Regions from separate parts of the Homo sapiens genome. Here all the other regions are linked to region 2. The links come from fine-mapping of genetic effects on gene expression. A gene starts in region 2. Each other region holds a variant in brackets. All regions are shown on one strand. Distances are between the middles of the regions. Region 1 overlaps F11 (coagulation factor XI). Region 2 holds the start of CYP4V2 (cytochrome P450 family 4 subfamily V member 2). Region 3 has its middle 3.8 kb from the start of KLKB1. Region 4 overlaps KLKB1 (kallikrein B1). Region 5 overlaps KLKB1 (kallikrein B1). Region 6 overlaps F11-AS1 (F11 antisense RNA 1).

The links. PIP is the estimated chance that this variant, and not a neighbour inherited with it, causes the effect.
Region 1: its variant is fine-mapped to the expression of CYP4V2 in adrenal gland (GTEx, PIP 0.97).
Region 3: its variant is fine-mapped to the expression of CYP4V2 in pancreas (GTEx, PIP 0.92).
Region 4: its variant is fine-mapped to the expression of CYP4V2 in fibroblasts (GTEx, PIP 0.94).
Region 5: its variant is fine-mapped to the expression of CYP4V2 in whole blood (TOPMed, PIP above 0.99).
Region 6: its variant is fine-mapped to the expression of CYP4V2 in hippocampus (GTEx, PIP 0.98).

What each region holds. Positions count from the first base shown.
Region 1 is chr4:186,279,572-186,284,647 of GRCh38, forward strand. F11 (coagulation factor XI) reads left to right here. Exons shown (of 15, transcript NM_000128.4): 8 at 441-550; 9 at 652-814; 10 at 903-1,009; 11 at 4,521-4,689. Among named protein-coding and RNA genes, the nearest start is that of F11, 16 kb to the left of the region's middle. The variant G/A (reference allele first, on the strand shown) is at 2,069.
Region 2 is chr4:186,189,468-186,194,541 of GRCh38, forward strand. CYP4V2 (cytochrome P450 family 4 subfamily V member 2) reads left to right here and starts at 2,100. Exons shown (of 11, transcript NM_207352.4): 1 at 2,100-2,570; 2 at 5,033-5,074. The coding sequence starts at 2,357. FLJ38576 (a long non-coding RNA gene) reads right to left here and starts at 2,023. Exons shown (of 1, transcript NR_046264.1): 1 at 1-2,023. RefSeq lists a silencer at 1,897-2,426.
Region 3 is chr4:186,221,142-186,226,217 of GRCh38, forward strand. It overlaps a transcript of KLKB1 not described here. Among named protein-coding and RNA genes, the nearest start is that of KLKB1, 3.8 kb to the right of the region's middle. RefSeq lists an enhancer at 4,873-5,076. The variant C/T (reference allele first, on the strand shown) is at 2,282.
Region 4 is chr4:186,239,161-186,244,236 of GRCh38, forward strand. All of the region lies in intron 6 of KLKB1 (kallikrein B1), which reads left to right. LOC124900873 (a long non-coding RNA gene) reads left to right here. Exons shown (of 2, transcript XR_007058497.1): 2 at 5-1,334. Among named protein-coding and RNA genes, the nearest start is that of KLKB1, 14 kb to the left of the region's middle. RefSeq lists enhancers at 1,945-2,550, 4,139-4,667, 4,668-5,076. The variant T/A (reference allele first, on the strand shown) is at 3,100.
Region 5 is chr4:186,233,150-186,238,225 of GRCh38, forward strand. KLKB1 (kallikrein B1) reads left to right here. Exons shown (of 15, transcript NM_000892.5): 4 at 803-909; 5 at 3,632-3,791. Among named protein-coding and RNA genes, the nearest start is that of KLKB1, 8.2 kb to the left of the region's middle. The variant T/A (reference allele first, on the strand shown) is at 2,000.
Region 6 is chr4:186,452,761-186,457,836 of GRCh38, forward strand. The region is part of intron 1 of F11-AS1 (F11 antisense RNA 1); the gene reads right to left. Among named protein-coding and RNA genes, the nearest start is that of F11-AS1, 46 kb to the right of the region's middle. The variant C/T (reference allele first, on the strand shown) is at 2,776.

The sequences.
Region 1 (5,076 bases), 90 kb after region 2:
AAAAGTCACTCTTTTCCAGGAAGATGCTTCCAGGGTGTGGAGTAAACGACGGACTTCACCCATCTCCTTATAAACCTATTGCAACCCTGGATAGGAGGTTTCTAGGTAGCATGAAGACTCTTGAATCTTTAAGATAGGCTGGGAGTGTTGAAAGGAAGGAAATGAAAAGGGAAGATACTAGGAAGACTGACAATAGAGCAAGCTCAGAAAATTTTTATGGAGGTGATTTAGTTAGAAAATTTGTCTGCAACCTAAGGGCCATGGAGTGTGACTCCATGGTTTATGGGTGTAACTCCGTGGTTTATGAAGAGTACTTTCAAAATAGGAAAATCTTCACAACTAAGTGCTAGCATGAGCTGACTTTACTTTCTCTAGGTGCTGTAAAAATGTTTTTATGTGTTTGATATGATATATTTCTACTTCCCTTTTGTTTTTGTTAGAAATCTTTGTCTCCTTAAAACATCTGAGAGTGGATTGCCCAGTACACGCATTAAAAAGAGCAAAGCTCTTTCTGGTTTCAGTCTACAAAGCTGCAGGCACAGCATCCCAGGTAAACTGAGAGTTCTGCATTCTGGCTGAGAGTGACCAGCCCCGAGGAGGCTGATACATGCTGAGGGAGGGTCTCACTCTGACATGTGGTCTGCTGTCTAGTGTTCTGCCATTCTTCATTTTACCATGACACTGATTTCTTGGGAGAAGAACTGGATATTGTTGCTGCAAAAAGTCACGAGGCCTGCCAGAAACTGTGCACCAATGCCGTCCGCTGCCAGTTTTTTACCTATACCCCAGCCCAAGCATCCTGCAACGAAGGGAAGTAAGCCATATGAAGGGTTATGCAGACACCCTTGTCCCGTCTGCCTGTGAGGTGCATTATGTTTATACCGTTTTGTTTCCAACTGCAGGGGCAAGTGTTACTTAAAGCTTTCTTCAAACGGATCTCCAACTAAAATACTTCACGGGAGAGGAGGCATCTCTGGATACACATTAAGGTTGTGTAAAATGGATAATGGTGAGTATAATGTCACTTGAAAAAATATAGCTGAAGGAATTATTCCATGCTTCATACATCACAATCAAGACTGTCAGTTATAGCCACAGAAGGGAGAACATTCAGGAAATAACAAATTTTGCAATTTTCTATTATTTTCACTCCTGTCACTCAAGCTGACCATGTTTTAAAGGTAAATATTGAGGCTTGACTAAACTGTACATTGCCTAGTATTAACTAAATATATGCTTTAATTTGACACATTTATACACCTGGCATTTCTGTTTTCTTTCTTTCTTTTTTTTTTTTTTTTTTTTGAGACACAGTCTCACTCTGTTGCCCAGGCTGGAGTGCAGTGATGTGGTCAGTGTTCACTGCAGCCTCTGGCTTGAACTCCTGGACTCGAACAATCCTCCCACCTTAGCTCCCTGAGTAGCTGGGGCTACAGGCGTGCACCACAACACTCGGCTAATTTGTTGTAGAGATGGGATCTTGCCATGTTGCCCAGGCTGGTCTTGAACTCCTGGGCTCAAGCAATCCTCCCGCTTTGGCCTCCCAAAGTTCTGGGATTACAGGCTTCAGCCACTGCACCCAGCCACAACTGGCATTTCCTAATGAGACCCAGACTCTGCCAACACTCCTGTTATCAAGGCCAGTAATCTTTCCTATTATCCTTTGTAAGGGAATTATCGATCAGCACTTTGGTTAGTCAAATTACTAATTTTCTTCCAAAAATTGTGTATCTATTCAAGAAATACTGGAGCACCTCCTTTTTAGGGTCTTTATTCAGATTCCATGCAGGGTTCTGGAGACTTAGGGATTGGCAAAGGTTAAGGTAAAACTTTACTAGTAACAATGAGTGTGGTAGGATGGAAATAAGTGTTTAGATTACACGAGACCTGTAATAACATAAAAGTTACAATAAAAATCCAACCAGCAGTGTTTCCATCCCAGTGGCCAATTTCTGAGCATAGTCACGAGAGATGCTTTGTAGGCAAACAGAATTGTTCTAAGGGACAAAATCCCCAACAGGAAAGAACACACCACAAACACTCCTGCTTAAATTACCATAGTAACTTA[G/A]GATGGCTTTACTATATATTGATTTACATAAAGCTGCATGTTCTTATACTGTTTATTGCCAAATGTCCAATATTACAATACACTATAAGGTGCAACTGAGATTTAATGAATAAAATGGAAGTAACAATCCTGCCTCGTGATAGTTTTAGAAGCACAAAAACATTCTGTGTCAGATTATCTGCTGTACCGAGAAGGCGAATCAATCCTTAATTTCTGAGAACTTGTTTTGTAGAACATAAAGACGTTATATTGCCTCCAACACTGGTATCCTAACTAACAGACTATGCCTTCCTAGAGCTTAGAGGCGCTCCGATGAAAATCTCTGGATGGCTCAAGACTTCTTAAAAAGCAAGTCAATTACGTCGTATCTCATACATTCTGTTTTCCTCACAATAAATTTCCCTAAGACAAGAAGGAGCATTCGGCACCATTCTGTTGTCTTTCTTCTACTTCTAAGCGTTAGAAGGGACACTTAGCAAATGTTGCTGTTAAGTAATGTTGACATGGTTTAATAAAATGGGAATGAGCACGTATACCTCAATACATTGCAGACTGCATTTTCCCCCTTCCTTCTTCATTATGGTTTTCTCTGTTGGATTTATAGACTCTGGCCTGTAGAAGTTACAGAATATGCCAGGTATAGATTGATAGCTACAGGAGAAAATGTAAGATAAAGGAAAATAAAGTCTTACGTCTTTTCAGTGCAACTTTGGAGGGAGTGAATTAGATAACTAGGTTTTTACTGCGCTGTATTTGATGAAATAACCCCCTAATGTGAAAGGGAATAGCTGCGTGAGATATTTATGGTGCCTTGTCTGTCACTGGTCTACAATGTAACTTAACTTTCTGAAGATAGATAGCAGCACCATTAAAATAAACATTTCTTACCACAAAATATGATTCTAAACACATATTTTCAGCATTTCGTTTAAACTGAGAAACAGCATAGGATGAACCTCAAGGCCTCTCACCTGGACCTTGAGTTATTTCTAAAATATCTTAGTTACTATTTACCTATTAATTTTCCTAAAATTTACCTTTATGACGCTTCCCACCTTGCAGAAATTCCAGAATAGATGGCCCTCCAAAATGAATGTTCACCCTTCCGGCTCTAAAATGAGAGCCTCTGTTCAGGCTTCCGAAGTCACATCGTGCTCGTTCTCACCTCAGTTGCTGTTAGCTGCTGTTTCCTTCCGAACTCCTTCTCTCATCCTCTCCTCCTATTTGAAATCTGCCCCAGAATTATACACTCATTTTCCTACCAAGGAAAAAAAGGCCTAGAAAGGTTGTTTTACACCCACAAAACTAGTGAATGGACCTTCTAGGACCCGGCTTCTCATCAGTGATTCTTCTGTTAACTTAGACTCCTCCCTTAGCTCAGGACGCGGAGCCTTCTGAGCACCTGAGCCTGGTTATTCTAAATGTGATCTGGGCACAGCACATTGACATCACCTGGGAGCTTGTTAGAAAGAATTTCAGGACCCACACAGATGTTACTGAGTCAGAATCTGCATTTTGAAAGCTACACAGGCAACCCACAGGCACATAAATTTTGAGTCGCATAGGTGTGTGCGTGTGTGTGCGCATGTATGTGTGCGTGTGTTTGTGTGCACGTGTGTGTGTGTGTGTCTAGAATACTGCTGTCTACGAACACCCTATTCCCATCCATCTGTGTTCCATGGCTCCAACCGGGAGGGTGGGTTCTTGTGTCGGGCATCCAGTAAGTAGAAATAGAGGGCACTGTCCTGTCTAGGCAGCCCCAAGAGAAAAGAAACAGAGGGATGAGCCTGAGTCAAAGTCCCTGAAAAGTACCAAGGACCCCAGAGAATCCCAAACTGTCAACAAGGCCAAAGGTCAGAGGAAGTTCATAGCAGATCAGTCTTACTTTGGACGTGGGTGGAGCAGGAGTGACTGGGATCATGGTCAGCAGAGTCACTGGGACAGGGCAGGAACTGGACAATGGCTGCAGCCTGCGGGCAAGGTGCTTGCCTTTTCTTTCTAAGAGCAGTTCTCAAACGCCAGCAGGGCTGGTTCAAACACAGATGGCTGAGCTTCCAGGCTGGAGTTTCTCATTCACTGGATCTGAGGTTGGGCTGAAGAATGTGCATTTCTAACACGTTCCCAGGTGACGCTGTTGGTCTGGAGACTGCACTTGACAACCACTGGTTTAAAAACACCATTCACGTTATCATTTGAAGGAGGGTAAGACAGCCTTGTAGTACCACACAAGGAGGGCTACATTCTTAGGGGTGTGTAATTACAAGATGACTTAGTCAATTCCATTTTTCATGTGCATGTTTTGCTTTGGCAGCTTGATTATAAAGTCTCTGTAACTCAGGGTCATGATAAACTATTGACTTGAGGAAAGGTTTTCTTCTTGTTCCTGAAGGAGCATAATTACTGATGGAAAGGAAGATGTAGGAAGCTGCTCATCACAATGCTTCTGTTGCAGAGTGTACCACCAAAATCAAGCCCAGGATCGTTGGAGGAACTGCGTCTGTTCGTGGTGAGTGGCCGTGGCAGGTGACCCTGCACACAACCTCACCCACTCAGAGACACCTGTGTGGAGGCTCCATCATTGGAAACCAGTGGATATTAACAGCCGCTCACTGTTTCTATGGGTCAGTACCACGGCTGTTTTTATTAGTTCATCTTCTTCACACATTTATAAAAAATATTACTAGCATGTTAGGAAATAAATACTTTAACCAATTAGATTGTCTTATTTGCAAAATTAATTAATTGCTTCAGTGGTAAAAAACGCAAAAAGGAAGAGCTCATGGTCTCCCAGCATCAGAACAGGTGCAGGTACAAGGCTGCTTGACTGCCTGCTATTCCGCTTCCCATTTAACCGCATTCACATCCCCAAGGGCCTTCATGTTATTCCCTGCAAGAGCATACCTCCCTCTGTGCCTCGCTCTGTGCACTGTGCCCGGAACTAAACTCACAGAGGATTTACCATTGTCTGAATCAAATTTCTAATATGTGTGTGTGTGTGTGTGCGTGTG
Region 2 (5,074 bases):
GATTGCCTTCACACTGGCCTTGCAATCATCTGCTACACTGAGCACCATTACATTTCATGGTGGACATTCTAAGGTGTGACACTGTGTACTCTGCTGTCAGGAGGCTTTCCGGGGAGAAGGGTCTTGCCAAGGATTTCTTGCACTCCCAGCCACCTGACTGGTTTAGTCTGAAATTTCAGTATTCCAGGGTAGTATGAGAAAGGCCCTATCTGGTAACAAAGAAAGCATAAGAAAGATGGCTAAGGGAACAAAGGGACAAGGCTTTTATTTTGTTCTTTACCCACAGATTGCCTTCAAAATAAAGATAAAGCGTCTAAGCCTGGCAGTGCAGGTCTCTTTAAGCTGGCTCCATACCCACCCACCTCATCCTGCACCTGTCACTGCGTGGGACCCTGTGCTCCAGGCAGGGGCACCTCACTGCCCCCTGAGCTCATTTTACCCCTCCTGGCTCTGCAGCATTTCTGACCATTTCTGCCCAGGCCGAGACTCACTGCTGCCCAGAGCAATCTCCCTTCTCTCCTTCTGGAGGGGAGGGGTTGTATGTTACCCGCCTGGTTTTATCCACAGAGGTTAGCAGAGACTGATACAGACAAACCCTTTTTCTTTCTAATTTTAGATTCAAGAGCACATGTGCAGGTTTGTTAAATTTGCCTGACGCTGAGGTTTGAGTTTCTATTGATCCCCTCACCTGAATAGGGAACACAGTACCCAATACACAGTTTTTCAACCATTACTCCCCTTCCTTCCTCCCCCTATTTTAGAATCCCCAGTATGTAGACAAATTGTTTACTTTTATAGCTGTAATTAACCTTATTATAGCTCAGCCTCAACCCTTTAGAGAGGAGGAAACTAAAGCCCATGAGACTTGCTTAAAGATACTAAGTGAACATATTTATTTTTTAAAGTGTTAAAGTGATTAAACAATGTAGACGTGAATGAAATAAAAAGCGTAAGTTCCCCATCTTCATTCCCACTCCATAGAGCTGATCAGTATTTTTACTTGCAGACATTAGTGGAGCCGTAGAGAAAGAAACCTTTTCTCCAAAAGAAGGCATTACTTTACACACTCCGTTCTGCAACTTGTTTTGTTCACTTGCTATTTCACGTCAGCCCATGCAGATGACTTAAAACAAATTCAAATGGAGAAAAGCCTTAGGCATGTTTTTCTCTGCACTAAAGAGGCCCTGCAGGTGGCTGTGGCCAACTTATGCAGTGGCTTCGAGTGAACGAACGTAATTAGTAATTAAGCAAAGCGGGCATCCAGGACATTCAGTTTCATCTTCCTGGCACTTTAGTGTTTAGGAAGGGCCTGGCCTCTCGGGGAGCGACACTCCTCGCCCGGCCACTTTGTAAGAAGCATCGAGCGTGGAAAAGGGGCTGGGGTCAGCACTGGGGCCCTCTGCCGGGAAGAGAGACTGGCGGCCAGCACACGCGTCTCCCCAGGCTGAAATGGGGCACCCTCTCGCGGCCCTTCCCTCCCTTCCCGGGCTGGGTGGCAGGTCTTGGCTCTTCTGCGAGTACCCCGCGGCTGCGGTCTCCCGGCACCCGCTGAGCAGCCTCGCCCGCCTTCCTCTCCCACCCGCCCCTGCGTGCTCTCCGGGGCTCCGGCTTCCTCGGTCTGGTGCCTGGTGCGTATTTTGGAAAATACCTGGCTCATAACCACCTCATTGAGCTCCCAGTGTCCCAGTGGGCCAGCGGACACACACGGGTAGCTGACTTCCCTAACGTGTCCCCAAAGCCTCCCTGGATTACAGCGCCCGCTGCTCCATGTGACCCCGCGGGAGCCAGGACGCGCCCCGCCTCCCGGGGCTGCAAGTTGCGCAGGGAGCGAGCGATGCGCAGCAGAGCTGGGCTCCGAGCCGGATGCGCCTTCCTTTCCTCTCCAGAGCAGGCTGCCCGCCCGCGGAATCCCGCACGTAGAGCAACCTCGCAGCACCCTCAGAACAGCCCCGCTGGGGCGCGCCGGGCTGCCGCGGTGACCTTTCCGACGCCCCTGACCCCGCATCCGGAGGCGGCCGGAAGTGTCGCCGGCCTCCTCCCGGCGCAGCCTCCGGGCCTCCAGTGCAATCACTACGCCCTGGGGCCCGGAAACCGTTTTCCGGTCTTTCGCTTTCGGCTGGGGCGTGGAGGCCGCGGTGCTGCGTAGGCCGGGCCGGGCGCAGGAACAGCCCCGTGGCGCCCTCTCTGGCCGCCGCCCGGGCGGGAAACGTCGTTCCGGGGACCGGGCGACCCCGCAGCGGGGAGCGCGCCAGGTCCGCGCGGGGAAGTGGGCGGTGTGCGGCCGGCACCGCCTCGCACCACGCCCCCGCGGGCCCGCACTTTCCCGGAGTGCACCCCGCGGCCGCCAGCCGGGGCGATGGCGGGGCTCTGGCTGGGGCTCGTGTGGCAGAAGCTGCTGCTGTGGGGCGCGGCGAGTGCCCTTTCCCTGGCCGGCGCCAGTCTGGTCCTGAGCCTGCTGCAGAGGGTGGCGAGCTACGCGCGGAAATGGCAGCAGATGCGGCCCATCCCCACGGTGGCCCGCGCCTACCCACTGGTGGGCCACGCGCTGCTGATGAAGCCGGACGGGCGAGGTAAGGGCCGGCGCTCCTCCTGGAGCGCAACGGGGTCCGCAGCCCCGTTCCCACCCTCCGATCAGCCAGGAACCCGCTGCTTGTGGCGCTGGCCGCAGGAGAGAGGAGCCTGTCACCCTGTGGAGAATGCACTCCCAGTTCTAGTCGTTGCCCCTTGGCACCCGCCGACACTGCTAGTGCCCCATCCCAAAGTGAGCATTTTCTTTGTGTGTAGCACAGGATGCGGTATTTCCAAACCCCTGCCCTCGGTCTTTTCCCACCTCACCGCTGCTCAGCTCTCAAAGCCCTGCCGTTTCCTCCTGCCTTGGCTTGGGAAGCCTTAGGAACAGAAGCTCCCTGGGAGCACAGAGCGGTTTTAAACTGGCCAACACCTTAACGCCCAGAGCCGCCCTCCTCTCGCTGCCACTTTGGAAAATAAGAGACTAGAGATTCACTGGACGCTTCCTCCCGGCATCACAAGACTTGACTGCTGCTTCAGTTCCCGCTTGACCTTCATACTTTAGCCCTTTAAAGGATGTTACATAATAACAATTAAGAGACGGCAGGGCCTTCAGGCAGACTTCTTTGGAGGGTGTCAAACGCCTTGTTTATTAAAGAGTGAATTTTTTAATTAAAATCATGTTTTAAAACAGAGATGGACATTTTATTGATGGAAAAAAATCACGTTAAGTTAGAAAGCTCTCAAAAGTACCTGGTATTTACAACTCCCTGTCAGGGAGGGCGAACTCGATCTCAGAGTTTTATTTTCATCAGGGATTACGTTGAGGTACCCAGAAATGAGAAGATTTGCCCAAAATGGCATATTTTAAAATTGGCCCAGACCAGAACCCAGTTTCCTCTGGGATTATTTGTTAGTAATCGTTTTACAGGCTGAGCATTAACTAACTCCAAAGCTTGAAGGACTTTTTCTCATTTTCACTTGTTTTCTCTAATAAAAATAATGCTGTAATTTCAACTTCACAAGATGAGGCCTCATGGAAGAGTGTTTACCAAAATATTAAAAATACTTTGACAGAAAAAAATCAAGCGAACTCTTTGCCAACCAAATATCATCATGACTGATGTAACAAGTAATCCAACACAGATATGAAAATCACACTGGTAAAAATCATCTCAGTTAATTCTAAAAGCAGAGCTAACCACCCCTTTTGTCCTAAGGCTTTATGGTATTAAAAAATAAACTGTACAAAAATATAGATTTTCCCCTATCCCCTACCCCTGGAAAGTAATATACTGAAGTCTCATCATACTGTTTTGGGGATTCCAGTAATTAAAATCTCTAGTGAATAAAGACCTGTTTCAAAACAACCTGTGAGCTGACTGGACTATTTAAAGTAATTCTCCTTGTAGTCACTTTCAGAGTGAAGACAATGACGAATACTGTCTTTTACAAAGGGACTTTTTATTCCACCAACAAATTCTGGATTTTGGCATCAGGAAAACCACTGTTCAATTTCCAACACTATATCCAAGTTGTTTGAGAAATTATTTAAAACTCTTTAACTTAGAGGGTTTTCTTTCTCCTTTACTTGTTAAAGTGACTATATTACAGAGTCACTTTAAGGATTAAATTTATTGCATGCAAAGTTTCTAGATCACTGTCTAGAAGTCAGTTAGAGTAAGTTCTTTAGTTGTCAATCAAGCATTTAGTAAGGCCCTGCTTTGTGCCCAGTGTTGACCTCAACAAAGTTGGGGATATCAGAATATTCTAAGATACAGTCGTTGTTCCCAAGAATCTTGTCTTTCACATACAAGAGGTGTTGCGTTTCATTTTGCGGCTAATGTCCAAACGCTGGCCTCAGCCATTTCACCTTGAAGATTGCAGTTGGCTTCCAACTGGCCTCTAAACTCTAATCTAGCATTTTCCAGTCCATTGTGACAAAGTCTGCCTTCCCCAGCTACTCCCAGCTGTTGGACCTGCTGCCTTAGAACCACAGATTGAGACCTCCCTGTCCCCTCTGTCAGACCAGACCAGGGCAGGCAGTATATTTGCATGACGCAGGATGATTGACACTGGTGATTTCACCCAGCTCCCTTCATAGCAATTTTGACAACTGCTTCATCTGAGAGACATTTGGAAGCAGCATAGTTTATGGTGAAGTTCTGGAGTCTCGCTCGGTACAAGCCAGTTTCCACCATTTACTAGCTCTGTGATACTGGGCAGTCGTTAGAAAGAATGCCCGTTCTGGGACATCAAAACCTAATAATTATTATTCTCTAATAGCTAACATGCATTATGTGTGTTTATTTGCTGTGGCAAATACTATGTTGAAAAAAACTTTAGACTTACAGAAAAGTTGCAGTATTACAGGCAGTTCACACATGCTCTCTACCTGGCTTCCTCTAACAGTAACATATTACAGAATTAGTATATTCATCAAAATGAGAAAACAAACCTTTGTCCAATACTGGTCACAACTTTCTCATCTTGATTGAATTTCAAATTTGATGTTTTTCCCCAGAATTTTTTCAGCAGATCATTGAGTACACAGAGGAATACCGCC
Region 3 (5,076 bases), 32 kb after region 2:
ATTGTAATCTTTCCTCCTTCATTTATAATTTTATTTGAGTTTTTTTTCTTTTTCTCCTAATTAGGCTAAAGATTTCTTGATTTATCTTTTTAAAAACAATAACAGTGTCATTGACCTTTTCTGTTGTTTTTCTAGTCTCTATTTCATTTATCTCTGCTCTGATCTTTATTATTTTCTTTCTTCCTCTGTCTTTGGGCTTAGTTTTTTTTTTTTACTTTCTTATTGCTTCAGGTGTAAAGTTAGGATATTTCAGATCTTTCCATTTTCTTAAGGTAGGTATTTATCGCTATAAACTTCCTTCTTAGAACTGCTTTTGCTGCATCCCATAAATTTTCAATGCCACAAATTTTGTTTCTCTTTTCATTTTTCTCAAGACATTTTTTGATTTTCCTTTTGATTTCTTCTTTGACTCATTGGTTGTTCAGGAGTATGTTAATTTTCATGTATTTGTGAATTTTCCATTTTTCCTTCTGTTACTGAGTTCTACTTTTATGCCATTATGGTTGGAAAAGATACTTGATATGATTTCAATCCTTAAATTTGTTAAGATGTTTTCCATGGCCTAACATATAACCTATCCTGGAGAGTGTTCTGTGTGCACTTAAAAAGAATGTGCATTCTGCTGCTTTTGAAAGGAATGTTCTGCACATGTCCGTTAGGTCTATTGGTTTATAGCATTTTGAAATCCACAGTTTCCTTGTTGATTTTCTGTCCAGGTGATCTATTCATTGTTGAAAGCATGTTGCTATTTATTTCTCCTTTAGTTATGTTAATATTTGCTTTATAGATTTAGATGCACTGATTTTGGGTACATGTGTATTTACAATTGTTATATCCTCTTAATGAATTCACCCTTTTACCATTATATAATGACCTTCTCTGTCTCTTGTGACAGTATTTGACTTAAACTCTATCTCATCTGTTATAAGGATAGCCACCTCTGCTTTCGTTTGGTTATCATGTGAATGCAATCTCTTTTTCATCCCTTCACTTCCAGCTTATGTCTGTCCTTAAAGCTAAAGTTAGTCTCTTACAGGCAGCATATAGTTAGATCTTGTTTTTTATTCACTCATCCACTCTCTCTTTTGATTGGATAATTTAATACATTTACATCTAAAGTAATTATTGGTAGGTAAAGGCTTACTACTATCATGTTGTTAATTGTTTTCTGATTGTTTTGTAGTTCCTTTGTTGCTTCTTTTTGTCTCACTGTCTTCCTTTGTGACTTAATAACTTTTTTGGAGCAATTTGCTTTGGTTCCTTTCTCTTTATGTTTTGTATATCTACTACAGACTTTTTCTTTGTGGTTATCATGAGGTTTACATAAAATATTTCATAGTTATAACCATCCATTTTAATCTGGTAACAACTTTGACTGCATTTAAAAATACTGTATTTTAACTTCTCCTCCTCCCACATTTTATTATTCATGCCATAGTTTATATCTTTTGTATGTTGTGTATTCATTAGCAAATTGTTGTAGTTATAGTTATTTGTTAATACTTTTGTTTTTTAACTTTTATACTAGAGTTAAAAGTGACTGTTGCACAATAACAGTATTGGAGTATTCTGTATTTGACTGTATAAGAATACCTTTAATAGAGTTTTATTCTTTCATTTGTTTTCATGTTAGTTAGTGTCCTTTTGTTTAAACTTGAGAATTCCCTTTAGCATTTTTTGTAAGGCAGGTTTAATGGTGTTGAAATCCCACAGCTTTTATTTGTCTGGTGATATGATTTGTTCCTGAACTTCCACCCAAATCTCATCTCGAATTGCAATCCCCAGGTGTCAAAGGAGGGACCTGTTGGGAGATGATTGGATCACGAGGTGTTTTCCCCCATTATGTTCTCATGATAGTGAGGGTGTTCTCATGAGATCTGATGGTTTAAAAGTGGTGGTTACCCGTGCGCACATGCTCTCTCTCTCTCCTGCTGCCTTGTGAAGAAGGTACCTGCTTCCCCTTCACCTTCCACCATAATTGTAAGTTTCCTGAGGCCTCCCCAGCCATGAGGAACTGTGAGTCATTTAGACCTCTTTTGTTTATAAATTACCCAGTCTCAGGTGATATCTTTTAGCAGTGTGAAAATAAACAATACAGAGAATTGGTACTGGCAGAGTGAGGTACTGCTATAAAGACAACCTGAAAATGTGAAGGCAACTTTGAAACTGGGTAACAGGCAGAGGTTGGAACAGTTTGGAGGGCTTAGAAGATAGGAAGATGTGGGAAAGTTTGAAACTTCCTAGAGACTTGTTGAATGGTTTTGACCAAAATGCTGATAGT[C/T]GTATTGACAATGAAGTCCAGGCTGAGATGGTCTCAGATGGAGACGAGAAACTATTGGGAACTGGAGCAAAGGCCATTCTTGCTATGCTTTAGCAGAGACTGGCAGCATTTTGCCCCTGCCCTAGAGATCTGTGGAGCTTTGAACTTGAGAGAGATGATTTAGGGTATCTGTCAGAATAAATTTCTAAGCAGAAAAGCATTCAAATATAACCTGGCTTTTTCTGAAAGCATACAGTCAAGTCATATGCGTTCACAAAGAGATGGTATGAAATTGGAACTTATGTTTAAAAGGGAAGCAAAGCATAAAAGTTTGGAAATTTTGCAGCCTGACCATGTGGTAGAAAAGAAAAACCAATTTTCTGAGGAGGAATTCAAGCCGGCTGCAGAAATTTACATAAGTAATCAGGAGCTGAATGTTAATTGCCAAACAATGGGGAAATGTCTCCAGGGCATTTCAGAGGTCTTCAAGGCAGCCCCTCCCATTACAAGCCCAGAGGCCTAGGAGGGAAAAATGGTTTCATGGGCCCTGCTGCTCTGTGCAGCCTTGGGACTTGGTGCCCTGTGCCCCAGCCACTCCAGCTCCAGCTGTGACTAAAAGGGTCCATAGCTCAGGCTGTCGCTTCAAGGGTGCAAGCCCCAAGCCTTGGTGGCTTCCACGTGCTCTTGGGTCTGCGAGTTCACAGAAAACAAGAGCTGAGCTTTGAGAGCCTCTGCCTAGATTTCACAGGATGTGTGGAAACACCTGGCTGTCCAGGCAGAAGCCTGCTGCAGGGACCCAGCCCTCATGGAGAACCTCTATTAGGGCAGTGCAGAGGTGAACTGTGGGGTTGGAGCCCACACACAGAGACCCCACTGGAGCACTGCCCAGTGGAGCTGTGAAAAGAGTTCCCCCATCTTCCAGATGCCAGAATGGTAGATCCACTGACTGGAAAGTTGCAGGCACTCAGTGCCGGCCCATGAAGGCAGCCGTAGGGGCTGTACCCTGCAAAGCCACAGGGACAGAGCTGCCCAAGGCCTTAACAGCCCACACCTTGCATCAGCATGCCCTGGGTGTGAGACAGGGGCTCCAAGGAGATTATTTTGGAGCTTTAAAATTTAATGACTTCCCTGCTAGGTTTTGCATATGCTTGGGACCTGTGGCCCCTTTATTTTGGCCAATTTCTCCCATTTGGAATGGGAACATTTACCCAATTCCTGTACCCACATTGTGTTTTGGAAGTAACTAACTTGTTTTTTATTTTAAAGGCTCATTGAGGGAAGGGACTTGCCTTGTCTCAAATGAGACTTTGGACTCGGACTTTTGGGTTACTGTGGAATGAGTTAAGACTTTGGGGGACTGTTGGAAAGACATCATTGGTTTTGAAATCTGAAAAGGACATGAGATTTGGGAAAGGCCAGGGGAAGAATGATATGGTTTGGCTCTGTGTCCTCATCCAAATCTCGTCTTGAATTGTAATCCCCACATGGGATTACATGGGAGGGGCCTGGTGAGAGGTGATTGGATCATGGAGGTGGTTTCCCCTGTGCTGTGATCTCATGATAGTGAGGGATTTAAAAGTGACAGTTTCCCCTGCACATACACACTCTCTCTCTCGTATCACCTTGTGAAGAAGGTGTCTGCTTCCCCTCTGCCTTCCATCGTGATTATAAGTTTCCTGAGGCCTCCCCAGCCATGGGTAACTGTGAGTCAGTTAAACCTCTTTTGTTTATAAATTACCCAGTCTCAGGTAGTATCTTTACAGCAGTGTGAAACTGGACTAATACATCTGGGAAATTCTTTTTGTCTCCTTCCTTTCTGAAGGACAGCTTTGCCTGATATTATATTCTTGGTTGCCAGGTTTTGTACTTTCAATACTTTGAATATATCATCCCACTCTCTCTTGGCCTACATGATTTCTGCTGAGAAATCCACCAATAATCTTATGAAGCTTCCCTTGTATGTGAAGAATTGCTTTTCTCTTGCTTCTTTGAAAATTCTCTCTTTGTCATGGTGAGGATTTCTTTTTTTTTTTTTTTTTTTTAGATGGAGTCTAGCTCTGTTGTCCAGGCTGGAGTGCAGTGTGCAGTGGCGCAATCTCGGCTCACTGCAAGCTCCGTCTCCTGGGTTCACACCATTTTCCTGTCTCAGCCTCTGGAGTAGCTGAGACTACAGGTGCCCACCACCACGCCTGGCTAAATTTTTTTTGTATTTTTAGTAGAGATGGGGTTTCACTGTGTTAGCCAGGATGGTCTCGATCTCCTGACCTCATGATCCACCCATCTTGGCCTCCCAAAGTGCTGGGATTACAGGCATGAGCCACTGCACCTGGCCGAGGATCTCTTTATATTTAATCTATTTGGAGTTCTTTTGGGCTTCATAAATCTGGATGTTTATTTCATTTATGTCTCCAAATTTTGAGAGTTTTCTATTCTTATTTTTTTAAATAAGTTTCTGCAACTTTCTCTTTCTCTACTTCTTCTGGAACTCTTCTAATGCATATTAATTTTCTTAACAGTGTCCTATAAGTCTTGTCAGCTTTCTGCAATTTTTATCATTCCTTTTATTACTCTGACTGGGTAATTTCAAATGACCTGTATCTGAGCATGCTGATTCTTTCTCCTGCTTGATCTAGTCTGCTGCTGAAGCTGTTTGTGAATTTTTTCAATTCAGTCATTTTGTTCTTTAGCTCCAGAATTTCTGTTTCATTCTTTTTTATGGTTCCTATCTATCTTTTTGTTGAACTTCTAATTTTGCTCATGTATTGTTTTCCTGATTTTGTTTACTGTCTATCTATATTGTTTTGTAGCTTATTGAG
Region 4 (5,076 bases), 50 kb after region 2:
ATAGGTACAGTGACATAGGACAGTGATACTGTTATAGTTATAGGAAACTAGTACAGTGATACTGTTAGAGTTATAGGTAGAGTGATATAGGACAGTGATACTGTTATAGTTATAGAAAACTAGTACAGTGATACTGTTATAGTTATAGGACAGTGATATAGGACAGTGATATTGTTATAGTTATAGGAAACTAGTACAGTGATACTGTTAGAGTTATAGGTACAGTGATATAGGACAGTGATATTGTTATAGTTATAGGAAACTAGTACAGTGATACTGTTAGAGTTATAGGTACAGTGATATTGTTATAGTTATAGGAAACTAGTACAGTGATACTGTTATAGGTACAGTGATATAGGACAGTGATACTGTTATAGGAAACTAGTACAGTGATACTGTTAGAGTTATAGGTACAGTGACATAGGACAGTGATACTGTTATAGTTATAGGAAACTAGTACAGTGATACTGTTAGAGTTATAGGTACAGTGATATAGGACAGTGATACTGTTATAGTTATAGGAAACTAGTACAGTGATACTGTTATAGTTATAGGACAGTGATATTGTTATAGTTATAGGAAACTAGTACAGTGATACTGTTAGAGTTATAGGTACAGTGATATAGGACAGTGATATTGTTATAGTTATAGGAAACTAGTACAGTGATACTGTTATAGTTATAGGACAGTGATATAGGACAGTGATATTGTTATAGTTATAGGAAACTAGTACGGTGATACTGTTATAGTTATAGGTACAGTGATATTGTTATAGTTATAGGAAACTAGTACAGTGATACTGTTAGAGTTATAGGTACAGTGATATAGGACAGTGATATTGTTATAGTTATAGGAAACTAGTACAGTGATACTGTTATAGTTGTAGGACAGTGATATTGTTATAGTTATAGGAAACTAGTACAGTGATACTGTTAGAGTTATAGGTACAGTGATATAGGACAGTGATACTGTTATAGTTATAGGACAGTGATATTCTTATAGTTACCGTGGTATAGTTATAGTTAAAGGTACAGTGATATTGTTATAGTTATAGGACAGTGATATTGTTATAGTTATAGGACAGTGATGTAGTTACAGTGATATAGGTACAGTGATATTGTTATAGTTATAGGACAGTGATATAGTTATAGGACAGTGATATTGTTACAGTTATAGGTACAGTGACGTTGTAATAGTTATAGGACAGTGATATTGTTATAGTTATAGGTACAGTGATGTTGTAGCAAAACTGTAAGGTCATTCCTTGGTTGTGTCCCTATCTAGTGAAATGACTCTACCAGGGGTAGGGAAATAAAACTCTGTCGTTTCACACATAAAGGTAATTTCAATGGAATTATCCAGAAAATTGCCATGACATTCCACCTCATTTAGCATGTCAGGATGTTAATGACAAGATGTTACTAAAAGCAAATCCCTTACGGCCAGTTTTCCGCAGTACTGGGTGCTGGCTCTGTGCCTGGCCCTGTATTGGGTGCTGGGCTAGGATTTCCCTGTGGAAGATTGGGAAGGTTGGTTACAAGGTGGCTATTTTCCTGTCTCCTCTTTGCGACAGCACACCTTCTCCATGGTGTGTGCCAGGTTCACGTGTACTGGTGATTTAATTTTAACGTTCATATTATTTTTTTCTGGGAGAGTTTTTGAAGGCTGCCAGGAGGCAGGACTCGATGCAAACATGCTCCATTCTGTACCCAGCCCTGTTGCTGGAAGGATTTGCTGCACTTACCCAGGGAACAGGCAAGCTCGTGCTGTGGCTCTGGGCTGTCACAGCTGCTGTCCACACCTGGGAGAGCACCCTGGATGGCTCATCTGTGTACTTGCTTTCTTGTTAAATTGCAGTGAGTTCACATGTGATTTAATCGGATCAAATGGCCTTTACAGACTGATAAAAATATGGCTGTTTCAGGTGGTGTTTTGAGCTGCTAAGGGCGTGGCTTTTCACTGAGTACGTGGTCCCCGTTCCTCAGGGAACACCCAGTAGCCACATGCCTCCTAAACCTAGAGTAGGGCTGTCTCCTGGCCTAACTGCCCAAATGAGATTCATAAGTTAGGGATGATCTGTAGTTATCACTACAGATTTGTCCTTGGTTTCACCAAGGATTTTCCTAATTTTACAAACAAAACCCCTAAGGCTCCTGGAAGGAGGGTAGAAGTGAAGGTGCTCCGGGGGCAACACAGCTGATGAGCTGAACCAGAACTCGACCCTTGGGTCACACACATTTCACAGTGCTCACTCCACCTTTTGTTTTTTTAATGGATTTAATGGTGTTTTAAAGCCTCCTGCCTCTCAACACATATGAATTCATTATATTTACAGATTTCCTTCTCTTGTGGTCCATCTTCCTGCATAGATCTTGAGAGATGTCAGGCTAACCACGTTTCCTCAGTTAATTTAACAAAACCATTTGCAACTCTGACATGGAAAATTCCTACCATGTGACTTATTAATTTATCAATTGAGATGGTACACATATTTTCAAGCCAAAAGGAGGAAAACATAAATTGGAAAAAAAAGGTTTTTTTATTTTTATCACCTCTGGGGAAGAAAGTCTGATAAACGAAGCTGGTTGATAAAATTGCAATTAGGGGAAGCAACATCATGGTTTCTGTTCGGAGGCTAACCAGATGGCATACTTGAAATAGAGAATGTCCTAGAAATCAACTGGTTGCTTGGCCAAAATATCTATAAATAGTGCCCAACATATTAGATAGGAAAAGCAAAGTAAAAACAATTTTAACAGGTTAGGACATTGGGCTGAAGTATTGCATATATTTAATGTCATGTGCGTCCGTGTGAAGAGACCACTAAACAGGCTTTGTGTGAGCAAGAAAGCTTTTTAATCACCTGGGTGCAGGCAGGCTGAGTCCGAAAAGAGAGTCAGTGAAGGGAGATGGGGTGGGGACGTTTTATAGGATTTGGGTAGGTAGTGGAAAATTACAGTCAAAGGGGGTTGTTCTCTGGCGGGCAGCGGTGGGGGGTCACAAGGTGCTCAGTGGGGGAGCTTCTGAGCCAGGAGAAGGAATTTCACAAGGTAACGTCATCAGTTAAGGCAGGAACCGGCCATTTTCACTTCTTTTGTC[T/A]TTCTTCAGTTACTTCAGGTCATCTAGATGTATACGTGCAGGCCTGGGCCCAGAGGCCTGACATTCCTGTCTTCTTATATTAATAAGAAAAAGAAAACGAAATAGTGGTAAAGTGTTGGGGTGGCGAAAGTTTTTGGGGGTGGTATGGAGAGATAATGGGCGATGTTTCTCAGGGCTGCTTCGAGCGGGATTAGGGGCGGCGTGGGAACCTACAGTGGGAGAGATGAAGCTGAAGGAATATTTTATGGTAAGGGGTGATATTGTGGGGTTGTTAGAAGCAGCATTTGTCATATAGAATGATTGGTGATGGCCTGGATATGGTTTTGTGTGAAATGAGAAACTAAATGGAAGACACAAGGTCTGAATAAGAGAAGGAGAAAAACAGGTGTTAAAGGACTAAGAATTGGGAGGACCCAGGACATCTAATTAGAGAGTGCCTAAGGGGGTTCAGTGTAATTACTTGCTTGGTTGGTGAGTTTTTGGGCTCTATCCTTGACAGAGTCCTCCTTTTTAAGTTGGAGGCTGAGCTTGGTGAGGTGTGTTTTTAAAAGACCATTAGTCTGTTCTACCTTTCCTGAAGATTGAGGATGGTGAGGGGTATGAAGGTTTTACTGAATACCAAGAGCCTGAGAAACTGCTTGGGTGATTTGACTAATAAAGGCCGGTCTGTTATCGGATTGTATAGAGATGGAAAGGCCAAACTGAGGAATTATGTCTGACAGAAGGGAAGAAATGACCACGGTGGCCTTCTCAGACCCTGTGGGAAAGGCCTCTACCCATCCAGTGAAAGTGTCTACCCAGACCAAGAGGTATTTTAGTTTCCTGACTCCGGGTATGTGAGTAAAGTCAATCTGCCAGTCCTGGGCGGGGGCAAATCCCCGAGCTTGATGTGTAGGGAAGGGAGGGGGCCTGAGCAATCCCTGAGGAGGAGTGGAGTAGCAGATGGAACACTGAGCAGTTATTTTTTGAGGATAGATTTTTACGACGGAAAGGAAAAGTGAGGTTTTAAGAGGTGGGTTAGTGGCTTGTAACTTACATGGAAGAGTTTATGAAATGATGACAGAATAGAATGGGCCTGTGAGGCTGGAGGAGATATTTTCCTTGGTCCAAGAATTATTTGCCTTGTGTGGGAAGAGATTGATAGGTGGAAGTTTCAATGGGGGAGTAGATGGGAGTGACAGATGAGGAAGAAAAAAACTGGCTGTGAGGGATAGAAGTTGGAATGCTCGCTGCTTTTTTAGCTACCTTATCAGCATAGGCATTGTCCTGAGCAGTGGGATCTGATGCCTTTTGGTGGCCCTTGCAGTGAATGGCTTCAGCTTCCTTTGGAAGTAAAGTGGCCTTGAGAGGAGTTTTTATTAAAGAGGCATTAAGATGGAGAACCCTTGTGTAGTGAGGAAACCTCCTTCAGCCCATATAACCGCATGGTGGTGCAGAATATGGAAGGCATATTTAGAGTCAGTATAAATATTGACACGTAGTCCCTTTGCAAGAGTGAGGGCCTGAGTTAAGGCAATGAGTTCAGCTTGCTGAGAGGTAGTGGAGCGGGGCAGAGCAGTAGCCTCAGTGATAGATGTGGAAGATACTACAGCATAGCCTGCCTTTGCTGGTGAGTGGTGATTAGGCCTGGTGGAACTGCCATCAATAAACCAAGTGTGATCAGGGTAAGGAACAGGAAAGAAGGAAATATGGGGAAATGGAGTGGATGTCAGGTGGATCAGAGAGATACAGTCATGGGGGTGGGGGCCAGCCTAAAACAGTAAGGTCAAGTTGTTTGAACAGAAAGGCTACAGGGCGTGGTCCTGGCTCTTGTGTAAGAATTTTGACTGCGCAGCCCTGCACTTCGGCTGTGTGTAATGAAAAGGGTTGGGATGAGTTAGGGAGAGCTAGTGTGGGAGCAGTTTCTAGGGCTGTTTTTAAGGAATGGCAAGAGGAGTGGCTAAAGGATTTAGGATCTTTGGGGTCAGCTAGCTTTGC
Region 5 (5,076 bases), 44 kb after region 2:
TGATCCACCTGCCTCTACCTCCTAATGTGCTGGGATTACAGGCATGAGCCACCGCACCCAGCGGTAATTACAATTTTTATTAGGTCAGAGAGATGCTTATTAATCACGAGCCACAGTTTCATCTTAATGATTTTTCCTTTTGATTAATATCCAGAGTAAGCTTTTCTTTGTTGTTCCCATTTCCATGTTCATAACTCTTTACTCATCTTCACTCTATGTGAGTTTACCAACTAGAAATTGGATAGTCATTCTCTGATCCCACATGTTAAACTTGTAGAGAAAACTCAGATTGTATGTGAGGATCATCATATTAAAAGTGGAGGAAGGTTCTAGAATTCTTATAAATAATGAAATTAACATGAAGGTGGACATCTAAGACAGAGGGAAGTCTTCCATTAAGTGCAGACTACAAGGAGTTAATAAGCAAGATGAACACGATATACAAATCCAGCTCTTATCACTAAGTTAACTTTTTAAGTAAATGAAAGTATTTGCAAAAATAATTACCAATTGAGAACATAGTTGCCTGAAAGTTTAAGAACACAGGAAAAATCATTAACTCTTTAATATGGTTGATTTCCTGTACTTAAAAAATGTGAGTGTAAAGAAAACGCAGTGATGGAGTTAGATATTATGGGGTGTTATAAAATTAGCTCTAAGAGTGTTCTTTCCAGCAAGTATTGGGGAAGCTATATTATTTTCCTTATTCCTGGTTTTATTTGTTAGTGTGTAGAAAATGCTAGACATTTCCTCAATGTATGTTTATTATTCTACTTCCTAAGTAAAGCTACTTTTAAAATAGGTTTGGTTGCTTCTTGAAAGATAGTGTTACAGGAACCCTGCCAAAAGTACATCGAACAGGTGCAGTTTCTGGACATTCCTTGAAGCAATGTGGTCATCAAATAAGTGGTAAGTTGTGAATTTCTTAGCTACATTTGAGTTAATATTGGATCTCGCTTAGAACAGCTTTTGCTCAAAGTTTGTACTGCTACAGCTTTTTGGAAGGCATCACTCATAAAGATAGGAGATGGGGCAGTATTCTGGACACAAAAGAGGGACCCATATTCATCTGGACACTTCTATTGTCTTTATAAATCAACACATACTTAATGAGCCTCTATTATTTATGAGGTTAGCGCTCAAGTGTAAGATTTGCAGAAAATGAATCCAAATAATTGTGTCTCGTTTCCAGATAAGAATTTTTAAGAAAACACAAGGGAACATCTCTCTCAAGTTCACTTGAGGGTAATTTTTACATCAGTGATTCTCAACCAGCAGTGATTTTGTCTCTTCCACTGGGGACATTTGACAATGTCTGGAGACATTTTTGGTGGCTACAACTAGGGAGGATGCTATTAGCATTTACTAAGTAGAGGCCAGAATGTTTGAATGCTGACCAACATTCTACAAGGCACAGGGCAGTCGTCCACAGCAAATAATTTTCTGGCCCAAAACGTCAACAGTGCTGACATCAAGAAACTCTGTGATATACCACTAGGCCCAAATTGAAGAACTGAGTTCTGCAAATCTTGCTAAGAATAATACTTCCTAAAGGAAACTTGAGGACTAGGATGCTAGAGAACTTTGATTCTGACATCTGAAGCTACTGATGTCTTGGGAAACAGTTTCCAATGCTATCCTAATAAATTTAAGACAAATGAACTATTTCTCAAACATGACTGGGACTGATAAGAAAGTGAAAAGTGCTGAAAAGATTCAACTGATGGGTTGTCAGAATCTTAAAATAACTGCTGTTATTCTATGTATGACTATATATCATTACTATTTTATTTTCATTATGCACAATTAATTTTGTAGGTTCAAATTTCAGATGTTTTTAAATTTGTCATCCTTTCCTCCCTCATTGATATCACCTCTTCAATACGTACACACTTTGAGCCTGCTGTTTGCATTTTAACCAGTTATCAAAGGATGGCAATGCCTTCATTATAAATGTGGGCCTGACTTAGCCAGTATAATAGGTGTAGTCTACGTGAGG[T/A]GGAGTACATTTCCTATTTTAAAAGATCAATTTTTATGTTAATCCAATTTGGTATAAATTATTCGAGTAAGTGCTATTTCTGATTGTTGTATCTTGTAGCAAAATTTAAAGAAAAAGTAATTTGTGCCTTTCTCAATATTCCTGTTATTGTTCATGTATTCTAAAACTCACTGTTACTCACTTAGCTTGCTTTTAATGTTTTTTAAAGTGAAAAATTGTTCCCAAGTACATAAAATCTCTACACTCAAGAACAATTCTAGTCAAAAGCATTTAGAGCTTCCGTATGAACACTTAAAGAGTTTTTATTTGTAAGAGTCGCATCCCAACTCTTAGCCTGTTCTTTTCTCACATGCAGAAAAATAGGAAAGAGACTTCGTTTCCACAGTCTGCAAATTCCTGTGTTTAAGAACCACAGTGAATAATCCACCTCCCTGCCCAACTCATCGTACTGTCATATAGTTTTCCTGACAGTTTGTGTATTTTCTGTCTTTCCCACCCTTAAATTTAGTTTTATGACTTCAACCATACTTCTTAGGAGTGGAAAGGTATCTGTAGTAGATTATGGTTTATTCCACATAATCTTGGGGAATAAAACTTTAAAAAAGTATACAGTTTATACTTCTGGTTACATTACTTCCTTAACCAAAAGTCTAACCAAGAAATTTGAATCTTTAAAAAAAAAAGAGGCCGGGCGCGGTGGCTCACGCCTGTAATCCCAGCACTTTGGGAGGCCGAGACGGGCGGATCACGAGGTCAGGAGATCGAGACCATCCTGGCTGACACGGTGAAACCCCGTCTCTACTAAAAATACAAAAATTAGCCGGGCGTGGTGGCGCGCGCCTGTAGTCCCAGCTACTCGGGAGGCTGAGGCAGGAGAATGGCGTGAACCCGGGAGGCGGAGCTTGCAGTGAGTCGAGATCGCGCCACTGCGCTCCAGCCTGGGCGACAGAGCGAGACTCCGTCTCAAAAAAAAAAAAAAAAAAAAGAGCCTAATTTTGCTTCACTGTCTGTGAAAAGAATTATCTGTATCTTTTGCATGTAAGACAAATCTCAATGAAAAGGGTGCTTAAATAGAAGTTAACACTATTTTAAAGCAAGAATGGAAGTGGTTTCATCATGCGTAAACAACAACTCTCCACATTTTGTAATGATTGATCTGGATGCAATTTGTCATCAGACAGGAGAAGTCGAAAGCAAAGAAATAACACTGGGAGATAGAGAAGCTCTTTCATTCAATGCGAAAGGTCAAAGGCACATCAGTTTCTTTAATAATGCAAACCTCAGCACACATTATCAGTGTCCTCATTATTATTGCCTTGTTTATTTCCCACTGCTCATTGATAATTTCAACGTGAAATTTACCTGTATTGCTGCATGCATCTTGCAGTTTAAGAAGTGAAGTAACCCAATTTCAAAGCTAGTGCTTTAGGGAAAATATTGGATTGTATTTACTTCAAGCAGAGTTCGATAATTTATGTACATAATAAAAATTTTAAATCCCTTAGTTAATATAGCAGTTGCCAAAACTGGGCTATTATCATTCTAAACTACCAACCCAAATGGTAGTGGGTATCTAATCTACCTCTAGAAAGAAAATGGACTGTATTTGCTCTATGTATTTTTCTTGTACAGCTTGCCATCGAGACATTTATAAAGGAGTTGATATGAGAGGAGTCAATTTTAATGTGTCTAAGGTTAGCAGTGTTGAAGAATGCCAAAAAAGGTGCACCAGTAACATTCGCTGCCAGTTTTTTTCATATGCCACGCAAACATTTCACAAGGCAGAGTACCGGTGAGTACAATTCAAGGTGTGTGTTCTTTGTATTGGTGCCTCCAGGATTTCACTGTATTCTTCTTAACCTCTTTTGTTCCCAAACTAAAAACCAAACAGGGCTTTTATTCTAACCACTTTCCTCATTTACTTACTCTATTTTATTTTTTTATCTTTTATTTATTTATTTATTTATTGAGATGGAGTCGCGCTCTGTCGCCCAGGCTAGAGTGCAGTGGCGTAATCTCGACTCACTACAACCTCCGCTTCCCGGGTTCAAGCGATTCTCCTGCCTCAGCCTCCCGAGTAGCTGGGATTACAGGCGTCCGCCACCATGCCTGGCTAATTTTTGTATTTTTAGTAGAGTCGGGGTTTTACTATGTTGGTCAGGCTGGTCTCGAACTCCTGATCTTGTGATCCACCCACCTCAGCCTCCCAAAGCGCTGGGATTACAGGCATGAGCCACTGCGCCTCGCCCTTCATTTTTTAATTAAATAATTCATTTAATTTCATTTGTTTCTCTACTCTTTTCCCCTGGCATGTAATTGTACCGCATCTTCAAAGCCTGACATCCTCTTCCCCTACTTCTCCAAAGCTGATTCTTGCAGGTCTTTCCTCAAATACCGTCCCCTCCAAAAGCCCATTTCTGAGCATTCTCTTTTAAGTCACACTCAGCTCTGTTTATTTCATTCATAGAGCTAATCACAATTTGATATTAACTTGTGATTTTTTTCCTTATTTTTAAATCTTATTTTTATTTGCATAGATGTATGGGGTACAAGTGTAATTTTGTTACTTTGATGTATTTTACAGTGGTAAAGTCTGGGCTTTTGGTATATCCATCACTGGAGTCATGTACATTGTACCCACTAAGCTATTTTTCAACGCCCGCCCCCTTCCCACCTCTCTGTCACCTTCCCAGTCTCTACTGTCTATCGCTCCATGCTCTACTCAATTTTGGTGTCATTTTTTCCTGAAGCAAAATTTTGGTGTCATTTTTTCTGAAGTCATTTTCTGAAGTCTGTGTCATTTTTCGCTTTCCTGAAGCGAATTTTGGTGTCATTTTTCCTGAAGTTCCGTTTGCCCCACACATAGGCCTTGCTTATAGAATGAGGGTTTAGTGTCACGGAGTCTCCTGCCTCATTCTCACCCTAACTTTTCCTTTACCCCTTTGCGAGGGGAAGGATGTCCATTAGGTTAATAATGCAGACCCCTAACCCACTCATTATCAGGGTCATTGTTTTTCCACTGTGCATTTTAATACTAACTGTTACCTGCACTGCTCCCTGCCCCTCAAAGTGCAGAA
Region 6 (5,076 bases), 260 kb after region 2:
CCAAATAAGGAGGGAGTCAGTTTTAGGGGGGAACTGTTATCATCCTTGCTTTAAAGTTAAACCAGAAACTAAATTCCTCCCATAGTTATTGTATTAGTCCATTTGCATGCTGCTGATAAAGACATACCCAAGACTGGGCAATTTACAAAAGAAAGAGGTTTAATTGGACTCACAGTTCCACAGGGCTGGGGAGGCCTCACAATCATGGCAGAAGGTAAGGAGGGACAAGTCACATCTTATGTGGATGGCGGCAGGCAAAGAGAGCTTGTGCAGGGAAACTCTCCCTTAAAATACTGTCAGATCTCGTGAGATTTTATTTGCTATCACAAGAACAGCAGGGGAAAGATCTGCCCCCGTGATTCAATCATCTCACATCAGACCCTCCCACAACACGTGGGAATCATGGGAGCTACAAGATGAGATTTGAGTAGGGACACAGAGCTAAACCATATCAGTTATCTTGGCCCATGCCTAGGAATAAGTGAGGACAGCCAGCCTGTGGGGCTAGAAGCAAGATGGAATCAGCCATGCTAGACTTACCTTGCTGTCATAATCCTTGCAAAGGTAGTTTCAATTCTGTCTACATCATTGTAAGTTGTCATTTCACTCAATTTTCCTAAAAATTGTCCTAATTTAAACACTGCCTTTTTTTCCCCCAGGACTCTGACACTACCAGTTCACTATATTGTGGCCTTCTCAATGAAATCCTCAAGCCCTCAAATTCAGCTCTTACCTACAGAGCATCCAACCAGCTTTTTAGTGGTTCATTTTCAACCATGAATGGACAGCCAAGGATCAATCACCAGACACGTGAAAAATCTTCCAGCATGAAAGATAGACCAAAACGAAGAGGAAAAAGATACAATGAGATCACATGAGAAGAAAAGAAGAAGACAGCCAATATCTCTCCAATAGGAAATTTAAAGATAAGAAAAGGGAAGAAAAAATAATCAAAGAAAAAGTTCAAGAAAAAGTTCCCAAAGTGAAGGACCTCATTGTAAAAACGTAAAAATAGAGAGATGCTGCTAAAAACTTCCATAAAGAAAAACAAGTCACATCACAAATCAGGAGGATGGCCACCTTCTCAACAACTTTGGAGAAATTCCTTACATTTATGAAGAAAAATGACTTGCAACCTAGAATTTTATAATTAACCCAACTATTAATCCAATGTGAGAATGGGATTATAACATTCATAGACAGGTAAATACTCAAAAATCTACTGCAGTAGACAGCTTCTAAGATGACCCCAAATGTCCCGACCTCCTAGCATTGATGCCCTTATAGGATCTCCTCCCACTGAGTATGAGTTGGACTTAGTGACTTACGTCTAATGAATGGAGTATTGGAGGAGTTATGGGACACTGCTCTAATGTTAGGCTATAAGAAGACTGTGGCCTCCATCGCGGGCACTCTCTGATGTTCTCTTTTGGTCTCCTTCCTGTGGGGGAGGTCGGCAGCCACGCCATGAGGCAGTTTCTCTGAAGAGACCCACAGAGAAAGGGCTCGATGCTTGCCAACAACCGTGTGAGTATGCTTGGAGGAGTCCTAGTATATATGTTTAACATGACATAGTTTCTCAGTTTATTATAACACTTGTAACCATAATAGGTCTGTTGCCCAACTCACACAGCAAGTCAACATACTGAGATATGGGGCTGCAGCAGAGAAAGGGGTTTCATCATAGGGCTGCTGAATGAGGAGATGAGAGGAAACCCCAAATTCATCTCCCTGGGGAGTAGGAGGGTGGGGTTTTTAAAGAATTTTGGAGTAGGCTGAAGTGTGAAGATCATGGATTGGTCAAAGAGTGCAGGGTGAAATACTGGGACAAGAAGATGAAGAAACAGCATTCCCACGTTGATTTGGCTCCTCTGTGGGGTCTTCAAACTGGTGGCATCAACTATTCTCCTGGAATTCAGAATCTGCTTAAGCACTTCTTAAACACAAGCCTTATGATTCTAAGGTCAGAAATCCTCCCTATAGGAACAGTGCGGACGTGAGTGCTCAGTGCCGGGTGCAACAGCCCTTTCAGTTACAAGGAAGTGGGTCAAAGCGCAGCCTGATTATTGCTTAATTACAACAACATTTCTGTCCAGAATTCTTGTTAACACTGTCAGGACAGCCTTATTGTATTAAGTATAATAATCACATTGAAAATTATTTAGGCTTTCCTCAAAAAGACAAACCACAGATCAGCAGACCATTTGCAAAGCATCTAATTAATAGAGGGATAATGTTCAGGATTTGTAAGAGTTTGAAAAATATATTAAAAAGATAACTGAACAGAAAAATTCTCAAAGAAAACAAATAGGCAAATCACAGAAAAAAAACACAAGTGGCCAGTGAAGAGATACCAAAACTTCACTAATAACCCGGGAAATAAAAAGTTAAACTAAAGCTGACACCATTTTCACCCATCCATTTTGTACACATTATGAAACCTGTTTTCACCAACCTGATGCTAAAAAAGAAAAAAATTATAAAGTCTAACATTATCAAGTATTGTGAAAATTTTGAAAAATGGAAATACTCATCCGTCATTAGTGTGGGTATAAACTTGAAAAACCATCCTGAAAGTATTTTGATTATGTCTATGAAAGCTACCCCCCAAAAGTACAAGTTCTACAAAAGAGCAATTTTACTTGTTACGTGCATTATATTAATACCTTACACATCTGCAGTGAGACATGTAAAATAATATTTTAAGGACAAATAAAGATTAAAAGTGGGCCTGGCACAGTGGTTCACGCCTGTAATCCCAGCACTTTGGGAGGC[C/T]GAGGCGGGCAGATCATGAGGTCAGCAGTTCGAGACCAGCCTGGCCAACATGGTGAAACTCTGTCTCTACTAAAAATACAAAAATTAGCCAGGCGTGGTGGTGGGTGCCTGTAATTCCAGCTACTTGGGAGGCTGAGGCAGGAGAATTGCTTGAACCTGGCAGGCGGAGGTTGCAGTGAGCTGAGACCACGCCATTGCACTCCAGCCTGGGTGACAGAGCAAGATTCCATCTCAAAAAAAATAAAATAAAATAAAATAAAATAAAAAATAAAAATAAAAATAAAAAAGATTAAAAATGATAGCCGAATTCTTCCGTTTGAAAATAAGGTAAGAAACTTCTCCCTCTCTCTTTTCTTAGAACATTTACTTTAGAAGATTTGTAATTGTAAGTTCCTTTTCTGTCTCTAAATCTTTTTCCAAGCCCAATAAGCCTCTTGCCAGCTTTACGACCCAGGAATGGCTTTCTCAAGCACCTGGAAATCACCTCTTTGTAAACATCGAGTGAGACAGTGCCTCTGTGGCCCAGTTTCTGGGGGAGAGTAAGAGCCTGTCTTTGGGGGATGCCTTGCTCCTAGTTGCAAAACTACCTCTTGTCATAAAAATAAATGTTTATTTTTCCCTCATTTAAAAGTGATTACCAGGTGAATTTAGGATGAACTGTGTGTAATAAATGGTGCTATCACATTCTCTCACTTGAGGACTAGTTATTATATACCTTGAGAGCATGTATGTAATGAATTGTATCTGCTTGGTTATACGAAGGGGTGAGATTTCTTTCTGTCTTTGCAATCTCTTTGTGGGTTGTCTGTGATATATAGCACATTCTGATTTAATGCCTATTCAATTTTTAAAAACTGTTTTCTTTCTCTGCTACCTTTGTGAAGAGGTTTTCTAGGTTGGGAGAAGATTTTGGTTTAAATTAAATTTCCCCAGCAATGTTCATTATAGCATTGTTTGTAATAGTGAAAAATATAAGTACTTTAAATATCCATTTGTAGAAGAATGAATTATCATAAAATAATACAATGCACTAATATACAGCAGTTAAATAAATAAATTAGCACACTATGTGTCAAAATGAGTAATCTCAAAAACATAATATTCAATGAAAACATAGTTGCAGATAATAGAAGTATGATTTTGTTTTCATAAAATTGAAGATACTAAATATATTATGTATGGTTATATGTAAAAATAGTAAATATATAAAAATAACAATAGGGCCAGCATGATGGCTCATGTCTGTAATCCCAGTGCTTTAGGACACTAAGGTGGGAGGATCACTTGAGTCCAGGAGTTCGAGACCAGCCTGAGAAATGCACGGAGACCTTGTCCCTAAAAAAAAAAAAAAAAAAAAAAATAGCTGATTGTGTGTGCCTGATGTCTCAGCTACTCAGGAAGCTGAGGTGGGAAGATCCCAGGAGTTCAAGACTGCAGTGAGCTGTGATTGCCCCACTGAACTCTAGCTGGAGCAACAGAGTGACACTCCATCTCTAAAAAAAAAAAAATAAAAATAAAAACAAATAACAATAGGAAGCATATCCACCAGTGTGCAATTACCATTACCTGTGGTGCAGAAGGGAAGGTAATCATTTTGGGAATAAGAAAAAGGAGAGTTTGACTGTATCTGTAATATTTTATTTATATGAAGCAACATATAGCTAGATTGCAACATATAGGTAGTAATCTGGCTTTTAGATACAGAAAATAATATGACTTAGATTGGTGGGTGTTCATCATATTATTCTCTCTACGTTTTAAAGTTTTCATGACAATAATATTCTCATAAACAAAAACAGAGTTCCTGGATCAAAGAAAAACCATTTTAGAAGACGTTTTCTTCCAAAAGTTTGACCAGTGAGTGGAAAGTATTTCAAACATATTCTCTACACACAAAATCTGCAGACCTAACTCTCTTTACCGAGGAGGAAAGCTATCTCTCATTCTCAGTTTGGCAGGGCAATCTCGTGATGGGAAACATTTCCTGTGGGTTTTCAGGGGCCAGTGAAGAAGTAGAACAAAGTACTTGCTACCTGGGTTACCTGTTAAGACCACAGATCCCGCCAGAGCATATCCTGGTCCCTGTGACGCCATGGAACCCAGTAGTCAGCCTGGGGCACCATTCCTGTTACCGGAAGGGGGTCCCGAGCCAGACTCCAAGAGAGGGTTCTTAGACCTTGCCCAGGAAAGAATTGGGAGTGAGTCCATAGAGGAAAGTGAATGTAAGTTTGTTAGGAAAGTAAAGGAATAAAGAGACCAAGGTGGGCAGATCATCGGGTCAGGAGTTCGAGACCAGCCTGA